Homo sapiens: one gene and its partner. The protein of the gene in region 1 purifies or fractionates together with the protein of each later gene. This does not show direct contact. Each region holds a gene or a part of one and is shown in the gene's direction. Other genes may lie near its edges.

Region 1 (3,500 bases):
ATAGGTGAGGAAACAGGCACAGAGAGGTTAAGTGACTTGCCTAAGGTTTACCAGGTAGCTTTTGCTTTGTAACAGACTGTCTCAACACTTAGCAGCTTAAAACAATTGCCACTCATTTAGCTTACAGTTTGATGGGTGACCCATAAAATAAAGCAACTTGGGCTGAGCTCAGCTGGGTGGTTCATTTGGTCTTGACCAGGCTTACTCCTGTACAGCAAGGTGGCTGTGCTGCTGGAGGTGGGCCGGCTGTTGGCTGGGGCAATGGGGCAACTGGACCCCGCGTGTGCTCAACCTCCAGCAGGCTAGCCCAGGCTCGGTCACACAGTAATGTGGCAGGCTTCCAAGGGAATGAGTGACAGCATGCAGGGCTTCTTGAGATTCAGGTTTGCAACTGGCACACCACTTTTTTCACTGTATTCTATTGGCCAAAGCAGATCACAAGCCAGCTTATATTCAAAGTGTGAGGAAACAGACTCGACTTTTTGATGGAATGAGCTGCCAGGTCACATTCCAAGGAATTGGGAACAGATGGGGAGAGAAAACGGGGTCATTTTTGAAATCCAGGATAGAAACTCAGGTAGTCTGATTTCTGAGCTCACATGCTCAACCTTGCAGCATATTGTATTATTATATATATTATTAGCATTATGCTAACCATAACATTATGAAATGCTGCCTTTTCTACATGGAACGAGGCCCTGTGGTTTGTTCTCTGAGCAGCAGAAGGCCAAGTGGCAACTCTATAATAAGCGGACACTGCGTTATCTTCTCCCAGCATCTCTGTCTGGGCCAAGGACACACACATTTAAGCCCTCCAAGGTGAGAGGTGGAGGTTGGAAGGTGAGGACGTGGGCTATTATTCCTAGCCCCAGGAGATCTCTAACTGTCCACTTTTTCAACCAGTTTATAATCGCTTTGTGGAGAGGCAATGTGGGGAGGTGCTGAAGGGAATGACAGGACACTGGAGTCAACAAGCAGTGGGTTTGAATTCCCATCTCACCACTTTCCAGCAGTAAGACCTTGGGCAAATACTCTAAACTCTCTGTGCCTTGATGTTTTTGTCTATGAAATAGGCATATAATATGACCCTGCCACCCATCTTACTGAGTTGTTGTGAGGAATATATGAAGTAATGCATGACTGTATCATGAAAGTCACCTTTTAGGGAATTTTTACTATGTGCTGAGCTCGTAGTACCTTATTCACATGATTTTAGCTTGAATTCTCCCAAAAGCAGGGCCTCAGTCAAGAACCTGGAGGCAAATAGCTTATTTGAGAAGTGATTCCAAGCAGCAAGAAGAAAGATTTAGGGAGAGTGATGTAGGGAAGGAGGAAAAGGCAAAGTGAGGTGTGGCCTCAGCGTCACTGCTGTGAGCAGAGGGGCCTGGATCCTACTAGGTCCTTCTAGAAAGTGTCCAGTTTTCCACCCAGAGGATGTGAGGTGGACTTCTATACTACCTTAGTGAAGTTTTGCCCCTGGGGGTATTAATGCCCTGCAATTCTGGGCAGGAGGAGGAGGAAGAAGAGGAGAAGGAGGAAAAAAAGGAAGAGAAGGAGGAATGGGAGGGGAAAAAAGAAGGAAGAGGAGGGGAAGAAGAAATGAAGGAAGAAGAACAAAAAAAGGAAGTGATGGGTTTTGAGTATTATTACCTTTGTCTTTAAGACAATTTATTAAAACTTAGGTAATTTAATTTTGAATATTGACTGTGTTTAACAACTAACTTGCAAAATTCCTGAAAATTTAACAATTGGCTCTCACCAGCTGGCCCCAGCACATCACTGCTCAAAGGGCTAATAAACATAATGAATGCAAGTCACAGATTCTGAGTGCAGCTGTGGTTGTTGCTGTAGTTACAAGTTCAATCCAGAGAGAGAGTTGGGGCAATGACCCCAGTGCCTGGAACGCTGAGTGTCTTGTTTGTCTGCAGGTTAGCACCCAACCCGGTGGATGATGCCGGGCTACTCTCCTTCGCCACATTTTCCTGGCTCACGCCGGTGATGGTGAAAGGCTACCGGCAAAGGCTGACCGTAGACACCCTGCCCCCATTGTCGACATATGACTCATCTGACACCAATGCCAAAAGGTACCAGGATTTGCTTGGGTCACTGTATTAGTCCATTTTCATACTGCTATGAGGAAATACCTGAGAGTGGGTAATTTATAAAGAAAAAGAGGTTTAATGGACTCACAGTTCCATGTGACTGGGGAGGCCTCACAATCATGGTGGAAGGTGAAGGAGGAGTAAAGGCACGTCTTACATGGTGGCAGGCAAGACAGTGTGTGCAGAGGAATTGTCCTTTGTAAAACCATCAGATCTCATGAGACTTACTATCACAAGAACAGCACAGGAAAATCCACCCCCATGATTCAGTTACCTCCCACCAGGTCCCTCCCACGACAGGTGGAGATTATGGGAGCTAAAATTCAAGATGAGATTTGGGTGGGGACACAGCCAAACTGTATCAGTCACCTCAGGAGAGAAGCCCACTCTAAGGAAGGGGTCCCATAAACTCTTTTGTGTGCTCCCTAGTTGTGTGCTTCACAATTTCCCCAACATGGAAAATGACACCAATGGGTGTTGGTAACCATTCTCTGAGATTTGGGCTGGACTGCATGAACTTCTTGGCCCAAGCTGTGGGGAGGTGGGAATTAGGCAGCATTAGCGGGGAGAGAGGACTCATTGAAGAGCTATGGCCTGAGGCTCAGGACCCTTCTGGCTGAGCTCCAGCTGGTTTGCAGGGGCACCGCATCAGGACAGAGGTGGCTGGAATCTCACTTTGCCCTGTGCTGGTCAGACCCCACTTGACCAGCATGCAGCATCAGGTTTTGTTTTACTTTAAACATCATTATTGGACTTTTATATTACAAAATATATTTAGGTTGATCCTAATGAAACTGCCAATATTTGACAATTTTAACTTGTAAAAATGTAAATGTCATTTGTCCAACCTAATTCATATTCATTATAAAAATGTGAAAGCAGCAGAAGTTTAAGCCGTGGAAGGATCTCTCCCATGCTCCTGCTCTACTCCCTGGAGGCAAGCACTATGAAAATCTCACTGTGGCTCTGTCCAGAATTTTCCTACTCTGATTAAACACACCCTGGGCTACCGTCTTCTTCAGATCAGTACCTCTTCTTACCCCCCACTCACAGATCATGTTTTATTTTAATCTAAACAAAAAATGAAGCATACTACATAACTGTTGATCATGTTGCTCTTTTCAGTTAAGAGTTTATAAAGACTTTTCCATGTTAGGATGAAGACATCAACTTCATTTTTTCCAGCAGCTGCATTGAACTCTGTGGTTCTGATTAAATGTATAATATAAAGAATGGGGAAGGCCTGGGAGTGTTAGTCATGGCCTCCTAATTGCTTCTAGAATTGTGCTTCTCCTCATCTGTGCCCCGAAGAAATCTCAGCTAGTGGTACATTCCAAAATCTACCTCCTGGAGAAAGTTGCCAGGGAGCACTGAGGGCAAGGCACTGGACCACCTCTC
Region 2 (4,115 bases), on another chromosome or scaffold:
GCTCCGCCTCCCGGGTTCACGCCATTCTCCTGCCTCAGCTTCCCGAGTAGGTGGGACTACAGGCGCCTGCCACCACGCCCGGCTAATTTTTTGTATTTTTAGTAGAGACGGGGTTTCACCGTGTTAGCCAGGATGGTCTCGATCTCCTGACCTCGTGATCTGCCCGCCTTGGCCTCCCAAAGTGCTGGGATTACAGGCGTGAGCCACTGTGCCCGGCCACAGACCTGTAATCTTTATTAAAAACAAAAAAACAAAAAAAAAACAAAAAAAAACTGCATTATAAATTCTGGACTTGGTGTTTTGTTAATCTTCCTCTATTAAATCCTTACAACTCTTCCTTGAGAGTAGGTATCACTATTCTTCCTATTCTTCAGATGAAGTTCAAAGATGCAGGAGACTTGACCAAAGGTTAGCTCGCAACTAGGGGTTGGGGAGAAGCACCTTTGAAACAATGCAGACCTGCCACTTCTCTCCTGGGCATGGTCTAACACAGACATGAGTTCAAATAGTTCAGAGGGCAGTGAACTGGGACAAACGCTTGGCTTAACTGCCAGCCTCTGCTGCCCGGGGGCTGCGTGACCTTCGGCATTCGGACTGCAGTGGCACCCTCTCTAAAGGGAAGGTCATCCCGCCACCAACCAGATGATCTGCAAGGGCCCTCCAGGCCCCACCATCCACGTGCAGCAGGGTCCACGTTCTGACCACCTGGCAAACCTGGTGCGATGGGGGAAAGCTAGCCAGGGCCCTCCTTCACTCACGGCATGGTCATTTAAGTAGCTGGGCGGCCTGATTCGATCCTTGTCTCCTCTTCAAGGTGCAAAATGTACCACCCTGGGCCCGCCCCTGTGGGCAGCTAGGTTTTGCAACCGCGCCCCCAGAGTCTACTGCGGGAAAACTAGGGAAGAAGCCCAGGCGTTCATGGCTCATTGCGTCCCGCTCTACCTCTGTGGTTCTTTGGGAGCGACCCCCGGGAAGCGTCCAAAGTGGAGTTCCCACACACGCTGCGAACCCACAGCCGGTTTTCTCTGAACTCGCGTCCCTGAGTCCGGGAGGTGGAGGCGGAGAAAAGGGTGCGGAGCGACCCCACGCAGGGCCGCCCCCCCTCCCACCAGCGCGTCCTGCCGCGCCGGCAGCCACAGGCTGGCATAGCGGCTGCCGACCCGCCCTCGTTCCTCCACCCCCTGAACGGGACTGCTGGGCCCGCCCCGCCCCGCCTGCAGGTGAAGCGGCCGCAGCCGCCGAGTAGGTGCGTGGGGATGATCTCACTCGCGCGCTCCGCGCCAGGAGGAGGAGGAGCGGGAGCGGATCCAACTTCCGGGTAGTGGAGCCGCAAGCCACCGGCATCTTGCTTTTTCTTCCCCCTCCTCCTGTGTGCCCCGCGCCGCTCCCTCTTTCCCTTTTATTCCCGGCCCCACCCGCCAAAATGAACAGCTCGGACGAAGAGAAGCAGCTGCAGCTCATTACCAGTCTGAAGGAGCAAGGTAGGCAGCACGCGGGCGCCAGGTGTGGGCAGCCGCGGCCCGTGGGCGGGGACGGCCCCAGGGCGCTGGGGCCAGGGCAGTTGGAAGCCGGGCGGGAGACGTGGCGGCCGCCGTGGTCACCGCAGTAGCTCCGTCACCCGCAGAGAAGCGTCCTCCGTGGCCGGCGCGCCTGGGAAAGCTCTGGACCGAGGATAACGCGGAGTGTCGGGGCTAGTCAGGCCCCGCAGCTCGAGACCCGCTGCCCGCTGGTTGCGTTTGCTGGCGATCGGGGGCTGGGGGAAGGGACGAGGATTCAGTGCGGACGAGGTTGCACAGTGCCACCTTCCTTGCCGGAGAAGCGGGTGGGGCAGGATATTTTGGCTGCTTTGGGCGGCTCAGCTAGCTTGGCCCCACCCTTACACATTTGTTGGCGCTGGGTGGCCTGTAGGGCTGTTTCACACCCTTCCCAGCTTTTCGTTTGGATTCGGTCTAGTTCCTCTTTCCTTGCCCAGCTGGGATTTTCAGGCCATAATTTTTTTTTTAATCACTTCTCAATTTTAGCAGTTTATTAGTCAGCAAGGTCAACATCCTGCCAGTGTTGAGCTTTCAGAATTAACAGGGTTGACGCTGGGCGAAGGAGAGCCAGGCCATGCGCACGCATTTCTGTACTGCTTGGTAACTGGGGATTATCCTTTAATAAAGACCTGCTTCAGTCAATCATTTTTTTCATCAGTTACCACACTTCTGAACCAAACCAGATCAACAACCAAATGCTAACCTATCACATTTAAACACTTATCATTATTACCCTGACCAAAGGGTGGTCTGCGAATGTGGGTCAAGACAGGGAGGAACCAGCCGGGTGCGGTGGCTCACGCCTGTAATCTCAGCAATTTGGGAGGCCGAGGCAGGTGGATCACCTAAGGTCAGGAGTTCGAGACCAGCCTAACCAACATGGAGAACCCCTATCTCTACTAAAAATACAAAATTAGCCGGGCGTGGTGGTGCATGCCTGTAATCCCAGCTACCCGGGAGGCTGAGGCAGGAGAATCGCCAGGAGGCGGAGGTTGCGGTGAGCCAAGATGGCGCCGTTGCACTCCAGCCTGGGCAACAAGAACGAAACTCCATCTCCAAAAAAAAATAATAATAATAAATAATAAAGAAATAAAGGGAGGAACCATACAGATTTAAAGGAAGTAAAAATGTGTAGGAACATGTACTTTTCTGAATGTCTTGCTGACAAGACCATGTAATGGAAGGATCCCTGCTCTGTGGCAAAACCTGGTATTTAGTTGCAGCTCTTTCACTTCTCTTGGCCCAGCTCACCTGCTCTGTGAACTTGGAGGAGTCTCTTTCCTTCCGTGGATCTTCTGGTCAATCAAGGCCGACCTGACTAAAGGCGAGGGTGAAACTGGAGGACTTTCTGAGGTCCTGTCCAGTACTCTTACCTGTTGTTGCGTAAAACCACAGACACCGTTGGGAAGTGCTCCCGGATTCCTCTGAAGCCACACTCTGGCAAACAAATTTCAACATTACTGTTTACTGTGTGACCCTGGGGAAATTATTTAACCTCTGAAATGGACATAACACATTCTTCTGTGATATCCAGCATCTAGAAAGTGCTGGATAAATGTTAGTCTCTTTGGCCTTCCCAGCACCTTTACCTGGCATCCTAGATTAGCCTGAGGTCATAAAGTCACAAGCATCAGTGAATTTAGTGGGTGGACAGAATGCCTTTATCTGAAGTTTCTCAAGTGTTTTAGCGAGGGACTGGATTCTACTGACTGGTATTTTATATTTAATACACCTTCGCCCAACCCAAAACATTAAAACTTGATTCATATTCTAGATTTGTGGAGCTTTCATTATAGGTAATATCTGTCAGTGGATATCAGATCTTCTTATGGTTGGTCAGTTTTCGAATAATGATAAACATAAAAAAATTTTCCCTTTCATTTCTTGTATAATCAAGGGTCGATTAACAATGTAGATAATCTGCAAATTGCTTATATTTGATTTCGGAACACATTCTCCATTCCTATGTTGGGTTTGAGGCCTGACAAAAAGGATTTCTATATTTGTGGCTCTTTCTCCTATTGCATTGTATTGGAAAATAAACAAATCCTTGGCATTGGTATTTTTAGAGGATATATTTCCTTGATTAAGTGCATATGAAAGGTAATAGAACAGTTAGATATTCAAAGTTGTGTTTCTTAAAAGGTACACTTTTGGGGATAGTGAGTCTAGTTACAAAGGTGTTGGGATTTTTTCAGCCCACAGTGTGATTTTTATACATTTCAAAACCAGGTAGTTTGCTTGTCATTGGATCACAGACTGTGGAAACAATTTACTTCAAAAGTGTTCAGTTACTGTTTGACCTGTAGAACTAATTGGGAAGCTAGGGATTTGGAAGAACAGGTAACTGGGTCTTTGAGCATTTAACAGTACATACTATGATCAATTTTGTAAGCTGATGGTTGCATGGTTTATTTTTGAAAATAGTAATTTTTACTACCTGTTACTACCTTTTTACTCACAATGTTAATATTCTGAGTGATAATTCCACTACCCCTATTTAGTGTGAGCAAGAAGAACCACTATTTATCAAATATGTTATTTTCCCTTAATAATGCTGAGTAAACATATTTATTCATT

Evidence for each region. Proteins that work in one complex are often made in the same cells at the same time.
Region 2: the proteins of ABCC12 (region 1) and SHTN1 purify together in Homo sapiens (affinity purification with mass spectrometry; one large-scale study listed by BioGRID and IntAct). This does not show direct contact.

Annotation. Positions count from the first base shown.
Region 1 is NC_000016.10:48,142,494-48,145,993, reverse strand, and holds part of ABCC12 (ATP-binding cassette sub-family C member 12), read left to right. Parts: intron 1-1,928; coding exon 1,929-2,084; intron 2,085-3,500. UniProt on the Homo sapiens protein: Probable transporter, its substrate specificity is unknown.
Region 2 is NC_000010.11:117,002,388-117,006,502, reverse strand, and holds the start of SHTN1 (shootin-1), read left to right. Parts: upstream 1-1,315; 5' UTR 1,316-1,423; coding exon 1,424-1,481; intron 1,482-4,115. UniProt on the Homo sapiens protein: Involved in the generation of internal asymmetric signals required for neuronal polarization and neurite outgrowth.